Homo sapiens: one gene and its partners. The main gene of each other region encodes a partner of the protein of the gene in region 3 in a complex. Each region holds a gene or a part of one and is shown on either strand. Other genes may lie near its edges. The genes, in order: CRYBG1, PPME1 and PPP2R5C.

Region 1 (3,746 bases), on a different chromosome or scaffold from region 3:
TGGATAAATGAATTGTGGCATATTCATATCATGGAACAGTATACAATAATTTTTTTAAATGAAAAACTGCTATGGGTCAGGTGCAGGGGCTCACCCCTGTAATCTCAACACTTTGGTGGGAGGCTGAGGCGGACAAGTCACTTGAGCTCAGGAGTTCGAGACCAGCCTAGGCAACATGGAAAAACCCAGTCTCTACAAATGTACCCCCTCCAAAAAAAAAAAAAAAGCCCGGTCCTGTGGTGTGTGCCTGTAGTCCTGGCTGCTCAGGAGGCTGAGGTGGGACGATCACTTGTGCTCAGGTGGTCAAGGCTGCAGTGAGTGCAGTGAGAGGTGATGGTAACAGTGTACTCCTACCTGAGTGACAGAGTGAGACCCTGTCTCAAACAAAACAAGACAAAAAACTGCTACAATATAAGCAACAATATAGATGATTTTCACCGACTAATATTGAGCAAAGCAAACCAGAAACAGAGTACATATTGTGATTTTCCACTAAAATGAAATTCCAGAAAAGGTCAAATTAATCTCCAGCAAAAGAGGATGAAATAATGGTTAACTTTTACAGGTGGGAGGGGTAATGTACTGGAAGAGGACAGTAGGGAGATTTTTAAAGTTTTGAAAGTATTCTATATTTTTATAATCATATATATTTACCTATTATTATTATTTGAGACATAGTCTCATCCTGTTGCTCAGGCTGGAGTGCAGTGGCGCCATCTCGGCTCACTGCAACCTCTGCCTCCTGGGTTCAAGCGATTCTCATGTCTCGGCCTCCCGAGTACCTGGGATTACAGGCGCACCTCCACCACCACGCCCAGCTAATTTTTTTTTTGTATTTTTAGTAGAGAAGGGGTTTCACCATGTTGGCCAGGCTGGTCTCAAACTCCTGACTTCAAGTGATCTGCCTGCCTCGGCTTCCCAAAGTGCTGGGATTACAGGCGTGAGCCACCGCTCCTGGCCTATAATCATACATTTAAAAGCCACATACGGAAGAATTTTCTAGGACAATGTCAACTCTCCATTAAAAAACTTTTCACACCCCAACCACATAAATATGTAAAAATTTGAGTTTTACCCTTATGATTTGTGCATTTTACTGTCTATAAATTACATCTTGATAAAAATGTAAATAAAAACAAATAAAAATGAATGTTCCTTGAATGAGTGAATAAACGAATGAATGAGTTGTGTTTTCAAAGAGGAAAATAAAGACATTACCGTGAAAGAGGATCTTGTACTGCATTGAATTTTTAAGTAGTGCTTAGTTCTTGCACTTTCTTTGCTCTAATGATGCCCAAAATAATTGTTCGTTTACTTACTTTGCTTAAGTATTAATTTCCTTTGCTATTTAGCCACGACTGTGAAGTTAAGACAAGAAAGTCATCAACAGTAATGCAGATGATGTAAATACCTTGTGGGACTGGCATTTAATTTACTGCGAGGGATCTATTAAGCTCTTGGGGAATTGGGGAATATGCCTAATTCCCTTCTGGCGTTTTTAATTTTTTTAATCCTTTTGTGTTTTATGAGATGTGAGTACAAATTAATTATTCAGACTCTTGAGAGAGGAGACGAGTTGGCGGAGTTGCCACCCGTGTTCACGAACAGGAACAGAAGCCACCAGCACATGACATTGCCCAAGCCACCCAGAGATCAGAGTGGAAGAGTCCTAATTGCTGGGCGGCCCAGCCCCGGGATGTGCCTCTCCCATCCTTCTCCAGGCGGGGCTCGTGGCTAAGCAGCGACTCACCCTGCCAGCCTGTCACAGGCCAAGAGCGGCCAACAACTCCGCAGGCGACAATGGCCGCTGCACCCCAGGCGCTGTGGAAGCCCGACCCGGCTCTGGGTCCCATCTTAGAGCCTGGGATGCAGTGTCGGGAGTCGCGGTGCCCAGAGCATCCAGTAGGTGTCGCTGTCCCACGGCCGCCGCGCGCCCCCGGGGTGGGGAGCCGGGGCGTGTCTGCCTCACCTGGGGCTCCCGGCGCGAGCGCCTCACCTGGGCTAGCGCCCCTTGCCGCCCGCGCCGCGCGGGGGCGCTCTTCCGCGGCTGGGTCCCCGCCTCCGCCCCAACAGCTCGGGCTGCAGTGCTGCTCGCGCTGCGCTGGGTGCTGGTTCTGCAACCCGCGGCCGTCCCCCCGCATCCGCGACGAGGGGGCGGGGTCCCACGGCGCGCTGAGAAAGGCGGGCGAGCTGGCGCTCAGGTGTGTTCTTCCATAGGGCCCGGGCGGCAGAGAGGACCGCGTCCCGGCAGTCGGAGCGGGAGGAGGACAAGACGATGCCGCTGTCCCCGCCAGCCCAGGGCGACCCCGGGGAGCCCAGCCCGTGCAGGCCCCCTAAGAAGCACACCACCTTCCACCTCTGGCGCTCCAAAAAGAAGCAGCAGCCGGCGCCGCCTGACTGTGGGGTGTTCGTTCCGCACCCGCTCCCGGCGCCTGCCGGAGAGGCCAGGTGAGCTCCTCGCCCGAGCCCTCCAGTCCCACCTCCTCCTCCTCCTCCTTCTCCTGCTGCGCTAGCCCTTGGACTCCTGACCCCACTTGGAGGAGGGGAAAGCCCCGGGGTCTGTTTCAGTCCGCAGGAGGGTACCCGGGTCCGGAGGGGAGCGATCGTAGCCGCTGGGGTTGACGAGGTTCCTCGCGGCTTTTGGTTCAGACCAAGCACCGGCGAGAGGAACTTGTGCCCACGCATGTGGCCTTTAGTATGACTGCAAAGTTTTCATGCAGGAGCCTCCCGCATCAGCCTGCTAACCAGAGCGGCGGGGAGTGAGGGTTGTTACCGTCCTAAATGATGGCGGGAACTCTGCTTTGGGGTTAGGCACTGCTTTTGAGCTAGTGTCTTTATTGTAAAGCTCTTTATTGTGAATATCTGTAAGATCTGTGCTCTTACAGATGTTATACCCCCATTCTCCTCGCAACATACGAAGGGAGGAGGAAGTGGCAGGAATGGTTACCCCCATTTCATGGGTGGAGGAACTGAGACCAAAGGATAAATGGCTTCTCCCCATTGGAGCCAGTGGCAGAGCTAGAGAGCACCTAGTTATCAAAACTGTAGTTACCATTGTGCTTTTTGATTTTTATCATGGTTTTGAAGTGGTTTTATTCTATATGTATAATTATTCAACTATAGCATCAGAGTTTATGCATTCGTTGAATAATAATCAATTTGAAGTAACAGCGTATTTACATGGCTCAGAGGTGTGAAATATTTATAGTGATGGACAATTGACAATGTCCAGTAAATCCTTCCAAATGTGTTTTTAAAATACACCCTATGAGGGCCAGAATAAAATTGTGCAAAATTTGCATTTTAGACATGGTTTTCCTTTTATTTCTTTCTTTCTTTTTTTTTTTTTTTTTCTGAGACGGAGTCTTGCTCTGTCACCCAGGCTGGAGTGCACTGGCCCAATCCCGGCTCACTGCAAGCTCCACCTCCCGGGTTCACGCCATTCTCCTGCCTCAGCCCCCGAGTAGCTGGGACCACAGGCGCCCGCCACCACGCCCGGCTAATTTTTTGTATTTTTAGTAGAAACGGGGTTTCACCGTGTTAGACAGGATGGTCTCGATCTCCTGACCTCATGATCCGCCCGCCTCGGCCTCCCAAAGTGCTGGGATTACAGGCATGAGCCACCGCGCCCGGCCTCTCCTTTTATTTGTAAAAAAAGTCAATTTTACGATCTATTTTCATTCACTTATTGTATTGAGTACCTTAGCTAAGTGCCATGTACTGCGATATAAAAAACAATGAGAGAC
Region 2 (3,746 bases), on a different chromosome or scaffold from region 3:
CTAATTAAGCTTATCTAAGGAATGTATAATTATTAAAAATCTGATTTTCTTATGTATTTGTATAGAAGGGTGCTGGTATACTGAAAAATCAAATTTATTTTAAGAAAGGCAGCAACTAAGATATTTAACAACAATTAATGTTACATTAATATTAAACTCCAGGTTAGTTTTCCCAAATAATGTTATGGGTCAGTTTCCAAATTCTCTTTATTCATGTTATAGTCCAACTTTTCTGTCTTCCAAAGCCAAAACAATCTTCACTTTACCTTCTATGTAGCCTTCTACCTCTATTGTGCGTCTATCTCTCTATCTCCTCCTGCTAAAGTTTTCTCATTTTTCTACTGCGTATCATAGCAGGTCTCCACTCAATTCTTAGTTTCCTTCCCTGGTTTTTCCACCCATTTTTCCCATTCCTTTACCCCACTGTTTTATAGGATTCTCCTTTCTTTTCATCCCTAGGACTTACTGTCACAGTACTGCATCTCCTACTCTCGCCTCCTTTTTGATAAGTTTTTACACATATTACTTCTTCAGAACCTAAGGTTTCTCTTCTGTAGTCCTTTTTCAAAGAATATCTACCAATTCATCTCTAGAATCCCAAATATACTCTGGAGCCCTCATACCTAAGTATCTTTCCTACTCCTTTTCTCTTTACAGTCACTAATTCCCAGAATCCTGTTTGAAACTACAAATATCCCCTCAAAACCAAATGCCTATTCAATTCTCTCCACTTTCCAGCAATTACTTCTCCCATGTTCACCTCATTCTTTCTCCTCGGCCCAAGTATCCCCTAACCTGGCACAAGCCATTTAACGATCTAAAATTCCAAAACCTATCTCTTCTACATGGCTCTCCTTCCTTTCCAGCAAACTATTTCTCGAACTCCCAATGCTTCACTAATTCAAAGTCTTAGGCCAGTACGTCGCTTCCCTCAGATCTACTAGCCCAGCAAAAACTGATTGCCCAAATCTTCCTCTAAGCTTCCCAGACCTTACAACTGCAGCACTTCCATTCACCAAACCGTATTTATAGTCATCTCTCAATCTTTAGAGCCTATGGTCACTCTGTAAATTCTTCAGTTCTCTCCTTCTTCTCTCTCCCTTATCCTGTCCAGCTTCTCACTCTGTAAATTCTTCAGTCCTCTCCTTCTTCTCTCTCCCTTATCCTGTCCAGCTTCTCAGCACATTCCTACTACCCTTAACAATCTTCGTGGCTATGTTCTCCACCTTACCTTAGGCCTACTCCCTAAACTTTCTCATTCTCCCTTAAGAGACCTAATCTCACCTCTCATTCGCTGAATCTGTCTTTACACCTCTGGGAATTCTCTAGAATCGTCTGCTTCCTAGTTCTCCTCTTTCCTTCTCCAGCCCTGTCTCGAGTGTTTTCTACCCCCCTCAGCTTTTCTAGTATCTAGTTCTCACAGTGCAGATATTAGAACTCTGATAATATCTACTCCTCCCAAACCTTTCCTTAGTTGTTGGCCCAATTCCCCTCAACTTTTCTCTCAGTCATTCCCCACTTCCCTCCACCTTCCCTGGCCGATTCTCCTCCACCTTTGTCACCGTTCTACTCCCTTTTCTAAGCCTCCTTTATTGTGGAAGTGATTCTCAGATCCCTTATGTTAGTCTCTCAGCTTCCCCAACCTTTGCCTCATTCCCCTCTCCCTTCAACAACGTTATTTTTCCTCCAATTTCTATTGACTTGGCGCCTCCCCTAGTACCCCAATCTGCCTTCTACTCCATCTAAATATCTCCAGGCCGCCAACATTTTCTCCTATCAGTAGACTCCTTTCCCGTGCCTCTATGAACGCCCAGAGATACCATTCTCCAACGGCTGGGGCCTGGCCCATAGGGAGAAGGGGTATGGGTCACGTACCCCATTCGCATCTTGGCTCCGCTCTGACTGCCCCCGCTGCCGGGTAGAGGTGGGCGAGAGGGAAGGCGGCCGAGGTGCATGCTCTTTTCGAGGGCCGACATCGAGGGGAGGCTGCACGCACGTAGTCAAACAGTAGGCGAAGCTTCGTCCCACGTTGAGTGTGGCCCAACCGGTCACGACTCGCTCCCCTAACGACGCCCTGTCGCCTTTGGACAGCACCCAGCTACCCGTAGCACCGCCTACCGCCCACCGGCTCCGTAAACTCCACCCACTCGCTTCAGCGCTTCCACCGGAAGTGCGCAACAGCACTCATACAAAGGAAGCTGGGTAACAGAGTATGAGAACTCCGCAGACTCCCGGCTGGGAACCCGACGACTTTCACCGGAAGGAGGAGCGCTCTTCAGGGCAATGCACCCTGCGCAATGGAGTCCACAAAGGGCGCATCCCTATGCGCTTGCGCAGCTGGAGGCGCCCCCCAGCCAACCCCGGAGAGGTATTGTAGCAAAGCGTCCTGGGTATTGTAGTGTATTGGAGGGAAGGCGTCTTGGCGCCTTCTCTTCGCACCGTTTTCCGGAGACTGTTAGAGGAAGAGTCGCTTTTTCCTGCCTCCCAGGCTGCCCAGCGGCGCCGGTTGCCGGGGAACGCAGGCGCCGTGGGGAGGGATGGCGGGAGGATACTGCTTAGGTGCTGGAGACGGAGTTGAGCTGGTGAAGAAGAGCTCGGGCTCATCATGAAACAACGAAAAGGCCAAGGGTCTGGGGGCAGCCGTGGGCGCAAAAAAAGAGGTAACCTGAGCGATCAAAGATTGAGGAAAGCGTAATAGGAGAGCAGGGTGTAAGGAATTTTAGGGAGACCCGCACCCCCGCTGGATAAACAAGAAAAGGGACGTAAGAAGGAAGTAGCCAGGGAACCAGAAGGTTAAAAGGAAGGGCAATTGGCCCTCCAGAGAATAGAAAGGAATTAGGGGCTGGGGTAGGGGCCACAGACAGGCGATTAATGAGATGAAGGTTACCGGTAGGATGACTGTAGAGGAGAAGAACAAACAATGATGGGATTGGTTTTGATAACGAAGTGAAATGTATGTGTGTGTGTAGCTTTCGAGGTCCACAGGGACAGGAAGAAACATAAATTGGCAAAGGGATTATATCATTTGTTGTGTGATTGTGGGCAAGAATCACGTTTTATACATTACTGAATGACCAAGGATTAGTACAAAGCAGGACTCGGTAAATGTTAGTTGAATGAATGAAGTATGAAGGGCTGACTATGAGCAGGAGTTGGGAAAAATAATTGTAGAGTATAGAGCCGGGAAGAGTGGGGAATGACAGGTGTGATAGGATTGGAGTGGGGGTAAGGGCATGACGATCTCCTGAAGGACCTGAGATCATGAAAGAGTGTGCAGCAGAGAGTCCTCATCAGGTTAGCAGCTCAAGGAGACACAAGCTCACCGAGTAGGGGATGTTAGCTGCAGTGAGAACAGTCAACCTAGGAACCCAGGGCAGATCAGGAAACTTGACATTGAATCTCTACAAGACTGCCTCGAAGGGAAAAAGGACAGTGGGTGACCCTGCCTTTTTGCATTGTAGGCAGTTTAGCGAGAAAAGAAGTATTGGGAACAGTGATAGGACATTAGGCCATTGGGTTGAGGACTGAAGCTACAATCTGGGAATTACTCTTATCCAAGCTGTTTAAAGATTACTAAGGCAGTTTTGAGATACTGACTTTCCTGCCAGGAAAGATAGGAGGATCTGAGACTGAAGCATACTAGTGCTCCCTGTGTCAAAACAGTTAAGCATGTTTGGTTGATAATCGGAAAGTCAAAGTAGAAATAATATAACATAGCATAGAACAGAATACACTTTTTGCTATAC
Region 3 (3,746 bases):
GTTCATCCCAGCTCACTGCCTCTGAGGAATCAGCCCTGATTCCTGAGCCTGGCACAGGCTCACCTGCCATTCTCTCAGCATCCCACCCATACACACCGCACCACAACCTCAGGATCTCTAAGCTGTAGGCTTCTGGCAGGAGAAGCGTCAGCCCCATGCTGCTCAGAGCCTCCAAGTGCTGCTGTGAGTTGTGTGCAGATGAAGGGTGTTGACAGTAGTTATACAGGTGAAGCTCCTCTTCCCAGAGGCATACATGCTGTGATGGGGACAGGCCAAGTGTCCTGGTGACTGCCTCGAACTCCCAGATAGTTCTGTGGAACGTGCACTTGTGTGCTGGTTTACTACGGAGAGAAAAAGCAAATAGGGTAGGGTATGAACAGTGTTGAATCTGGGTGGAGGGAGGTGGGCACTCATTATGTTAGTCTTGCAGCTTTGTCTGTTTTTGAAAGTTTTAGTAATAAAAATGGGGGGCTGAGTGCAGTGGCTCACGCCTGTAGTCCCAGCACTTTGGGAGGCCAAGGCGGGTGGATCACCTGAGGTCAGAAGCTCGAGAGCAGCCTGGCCAACATGGTGAAACCCCGTCTCTACTAAAAATACAAAAATTAGCCAGGTGCGATGGCGCATGCCTATAGTCCCAGCCACTCAGGAGGCTCAGGTAGGAGAATCGCTTGAACCCAGGAGGCAGAGGTTGTAGTGAGTCGAGATAGCACCACTGCACTCCAGCCTGGGCAACAGAGTGAAACTCCATCTCTTTTTAAAAAACAAAAATGGATGGGCTAGGCGTGGTAGCTCACGCCTGTAATCCCAGCACTTTGGAAGACCAAGGCAGGTGGATCACCTGATCTCAGGAGTTCGAGACCAACCTGACCAACATGGCAAAACCCTGTCTCCACTAAAAATACAAAAAAGCCGGGTGTGGTGGCGTGCGCCTGTAATCCCAGCCCCTCAGGAGGCTGAGGCAGGAGAATCGCTTGAACCCGGGAGGCAGAGGTTGCAGTCAGCCAAGATCACGCCATTGCACTCCAGCCTGGGCAACAAGAGCAAAAATCCATCTCAAAAAAAAAAAAGAAAAGAAAAATGGGGGAACCACCCTCTAGTGGCTTCCCGTGAGTAAGCGCCAGTGCACTCAGGCCCTGTTCCCCTGCCCTCCTACTGTTCATGCCCCCACTGCCCTCTGCAGTGGTCCTCAGCCAGCCCCGTGCTGACAACTCAGGACCTCTCCTCCCTCTGGTCCTTGCTCAGATGTCACCTCCTCCCCATTGAAGCCACCCCACCGCACACGCACCGCCGCTGCCTGTTCTCCTGCCCTGCTGCCCTTTGTATGTGACTTATCGTTTCTAGTAAATTAATAATCATCCATCACCTGTCTCCTCCCCACTAGAATGTAAGCTCCGTGGAGTCAAGGATTTCTGCCTTGCTTTGTTCAGTGCTGAATGCTCAGCAGAACACAGCACGCCCTCTTGACCTGACAGATGGGGGAGGCGGGTGGATAGGTGGAATGGCCTCCTTTGAGTTGTCTCCTCAGCATCTAGCCAGCATCTAGCATAAATGTTTACGGAATAAGTAGAGAAATAGGTGACAATGTTCTTGATGAGTTGATGTACAAGAAGTTGTCTGCCTCTTTGTTGAAGGCTCTTCAGGGTTACAGGTTACAGTCTAGAATATTTTGAATTTGTAGAAATAATCATAATTTTCTGGTCCAAGGTAGTTCATTACCCGACTCACAGGTTTAACAGCAAGGACAGCCACCTGATGTCTCAGGCACAACCTCCAGCAAGCCATCCACTTGTGTCTTTCAGGTGGCAGAGCGAGCTCTCTATTACTGGAATAATGAATACATCATGAGTTTAATCAGTGACAACGCAGCGAAGATTCTGCCCATCATGTTTCCTTCCTTGTACCGCAACTCAAAGACCCATTGGAACAAGTAAGAAAGAACTGGCTGCCATCTTTTTCAGTCATTTTAAAATATGGCACGTTTTACTGCTACTTCAGTAAGAATAAATATCAGAATTTTAAATATCAATTAAAAAACAAGAAGGTCAGTTGCTTTGTGGACTCATAAATTAAGTAGCAGCGTGGGTTGTTTCTGTGGCCGTTGAATTTACCACCTTATACCTTCATTCCTGCCAGTATAGAGGCACATTGGTTTGCAGCCACCTCCCAGTAGCAGCAGTTTCTAGGCCTCTTCCTGAGCGTCCTGCAGAGAAGCTGAAGGTCTCTGCAGAGCCCAGTGGGGCTCAGCCCCGGCGGGGGCACAGTGGCCACTGCATTCTCGGGGTGTCTATTGAGCTCTGCTGACATGCACCCTGGATGAGCCCCTGTGTGAGACCCAAGAACCACCCCACAGTGGTCACTACCTGGAGAAGAAGAGGGAAGCCAGGTGATCTGAACACAGCCCCATAGTCCCAGCAGCCAAAAACATTTCCTCCTACTCCGCTCCTTCATCTTTTGACTTAAAGAGGATGAATAAATCCGTTTACTGAGCAATAGTCTTCTGAGACTTTAAAAGGAAACTGTTGATATGGGTGCCACATTATTTATTTATTTTTCTTTTTTAAAATTTGTATTTTATTTGTTTATTTTTAGACAGGGTCTTGCTATGTCCCCCCGGCTGGAGTGTAGTGTCACGATCATGGCTCACTTCAGCCTCGACCTCCTGGGCTCAAGCAAACCTCCTGCCTCAGGGTCCTGAGTAGCTGGGACTACAGGCACCCACCGCTACGCCTGGCTAATTTTTGTATTTTTTGTAGAGATGGGGTTTTGCCATGTTGCCCAGGCTGGTCTCGAACTCCTGGACTCAAGTATTCCACCTGCCTCAGCCTCCCAAAGTGCTGGGACGACGTGAGCCACTGCGCCCAGGCCATATTATTTATTAATATGGTATCATCTAATATTCCTGCTATTTAAAGAAATACGACTGAGTTTTTCTTTCCCCACCTTCTTTCATCTCTTTCCATTGTATATTGTAATTATAACTCAGAACTTAAAGAAGAGCAGGTTATGCTATCCAGCCCTCCTCCCTTAGTTTATGGGTGAGGAAGGTGAGACTTGGAGGGCATTCGCAGCCCAGTCTGCGGTCCCAAAGCTGGTGAGCGGCACTCTGGCCCGGTGCGGTCTCCTAACTCGCAGTGTCTATTGGGCACCCCTCTGGCTGTGCTGCACAGTCACCCTGCTGCCGGCGGACCAGCCCTCTCCCATGCACCCTCTCTCCTTGTCCGCTCGAGGCTGCAGGTGGCACTGCCTCCTTCCCAGAATTCTGCAGGGCAGCAGCCAGACAGGTGTTAGCCCTGGAGCTCTGAGCCAGACCCCCGAGCGAGCGTCCAGCCAGTCCACTCGCGTCAAGTCTTCTGAGGGTTGCCGCCCAGAAATTCAACAGAGAAGGGCAGGCAGATCAGAGTGAGGATGACTTTGGTTCACATTCCTGCCTTCCTCCTGAGCAGCTGTCTGAACCCGGGGAAGTTAGCTCTCACCAGGTCTTTCTTAGCCACAGTTTCTCTTTGGAAAAACTGAGAAAGTAAAGTGCTTTGCCTTGCAACAATCTTCACTTGGTTGTGAGGATTAAGATAAAGTTAATATGCGTAAAGTACCTGGCTTATGATAGGCACCAAGTAAGCATTTGCTGTCACTTAGTGGTTGTAGGGCCAGCAGCCATGCTGATAGCAGTGGAGGCAGCAGCCAAGACCCTCATGGCAATAGCGTGGTGGTTGTAGTTGTTAATACAGCACATCCACCCTCAACAACCT

The links.
Region 1: the proteins of PPP2R5C (region 3) and CRYBG1 are in contact, whole or in part, in a crystal structure (PDB 6VRO), measured with the Homo sapiens proteins. Residues at the interface, in NP_002710.2 of Homo sapiens: Lys183, Thr184, His187, Tyr190, Gly191, Leu194, Arg197, Ala198, Arg201, Glu226, Ile227, Ser230, Ile231, Asn233, Gly234, Phe235, Ala236, Lys240, Glu242, His243, Pro265, Gln266, Tyr269; in NP_001358171.1 of Homo sapiens: Pro1136, Phe1138, Ala1139, Met1140, Pro1141, Pro1142, Ile1143, His1144, Glu1145, Asp1146, His1147, Glu1149.
Region 2: the proteins of PPP2R5C (region 3) and PPME1 are in contact, whole or in part, in a cryo-EM structure (PDB 7SOY), measured with the Homo sapiens proteins. Residues at the interface, in NP_002710.2 of Homo sapiens: Asp180, His187, Arg188, Tyr190, Gly191, Leu194, Arg197, Ser230, Ile231, Gly234, Phe235, Ala236, Lys240, His243, Asp313, Gln341, Tyr348, Glu353, Tyr354, Glu399; in NP_057231.1 of Homo sapiens: Arg37, Lys38, Arg39, Asn192, Lys217, Val251, Glu252, Gly253, Ile254, Ile255, Glu256, Glu257, Pro345, Gln346.

What each region holds. Positions count from the first base shown.
Region 1 is NC_000006.12:106,358,634-106,362,379, forward strand, and holds the start of CRYBG1 (beta/gamma crystallin domain-containing protein 1), read left to right. Parts: upstream 1-2,083; 5' UTR 2,084-2,275; coding exon 2,276-2,448; intron 2,449-3,746. UniProt on the Homo sapiens protein: May function as suppressor of malignant melanoma. It may exert its effects through interactions with the cytoskeleton.
Region 2 is NC_000011.10:74,169,652-74,173,397, reverse strand, and holds the start of PPME1 (protein phosphatase methylesterase 1), read right to left. Parts: upstream 2,110-3,746; 5' UTR 1,977-2,109; coding exon 1,876-1,976; intron 1-1,875. Other genes in the region: C2CD3 (C2 domain-containing protein 3), read left to right, coding at 2,606-2,660. UniProt on the Homo sapiens protein: Demethylates proteins that have been reversibly carboxymethylated. Demethylates PPP2CB (in vitro) and PPP2CA. Binding to PPP2CA displaces the manganese ion and inactivates the enzyme.
Region 3 is NC_000014.9:101,904,603-101,908,348, forward strand, and holds part of PPP2R5C (serine/threonine-protein phosphatase 2A 56 kDa regulatory subunit gamma isoform), read left to right. Parts: intron 1-1,799; coding exon 1,800-1,927; intron 1,928-3,746.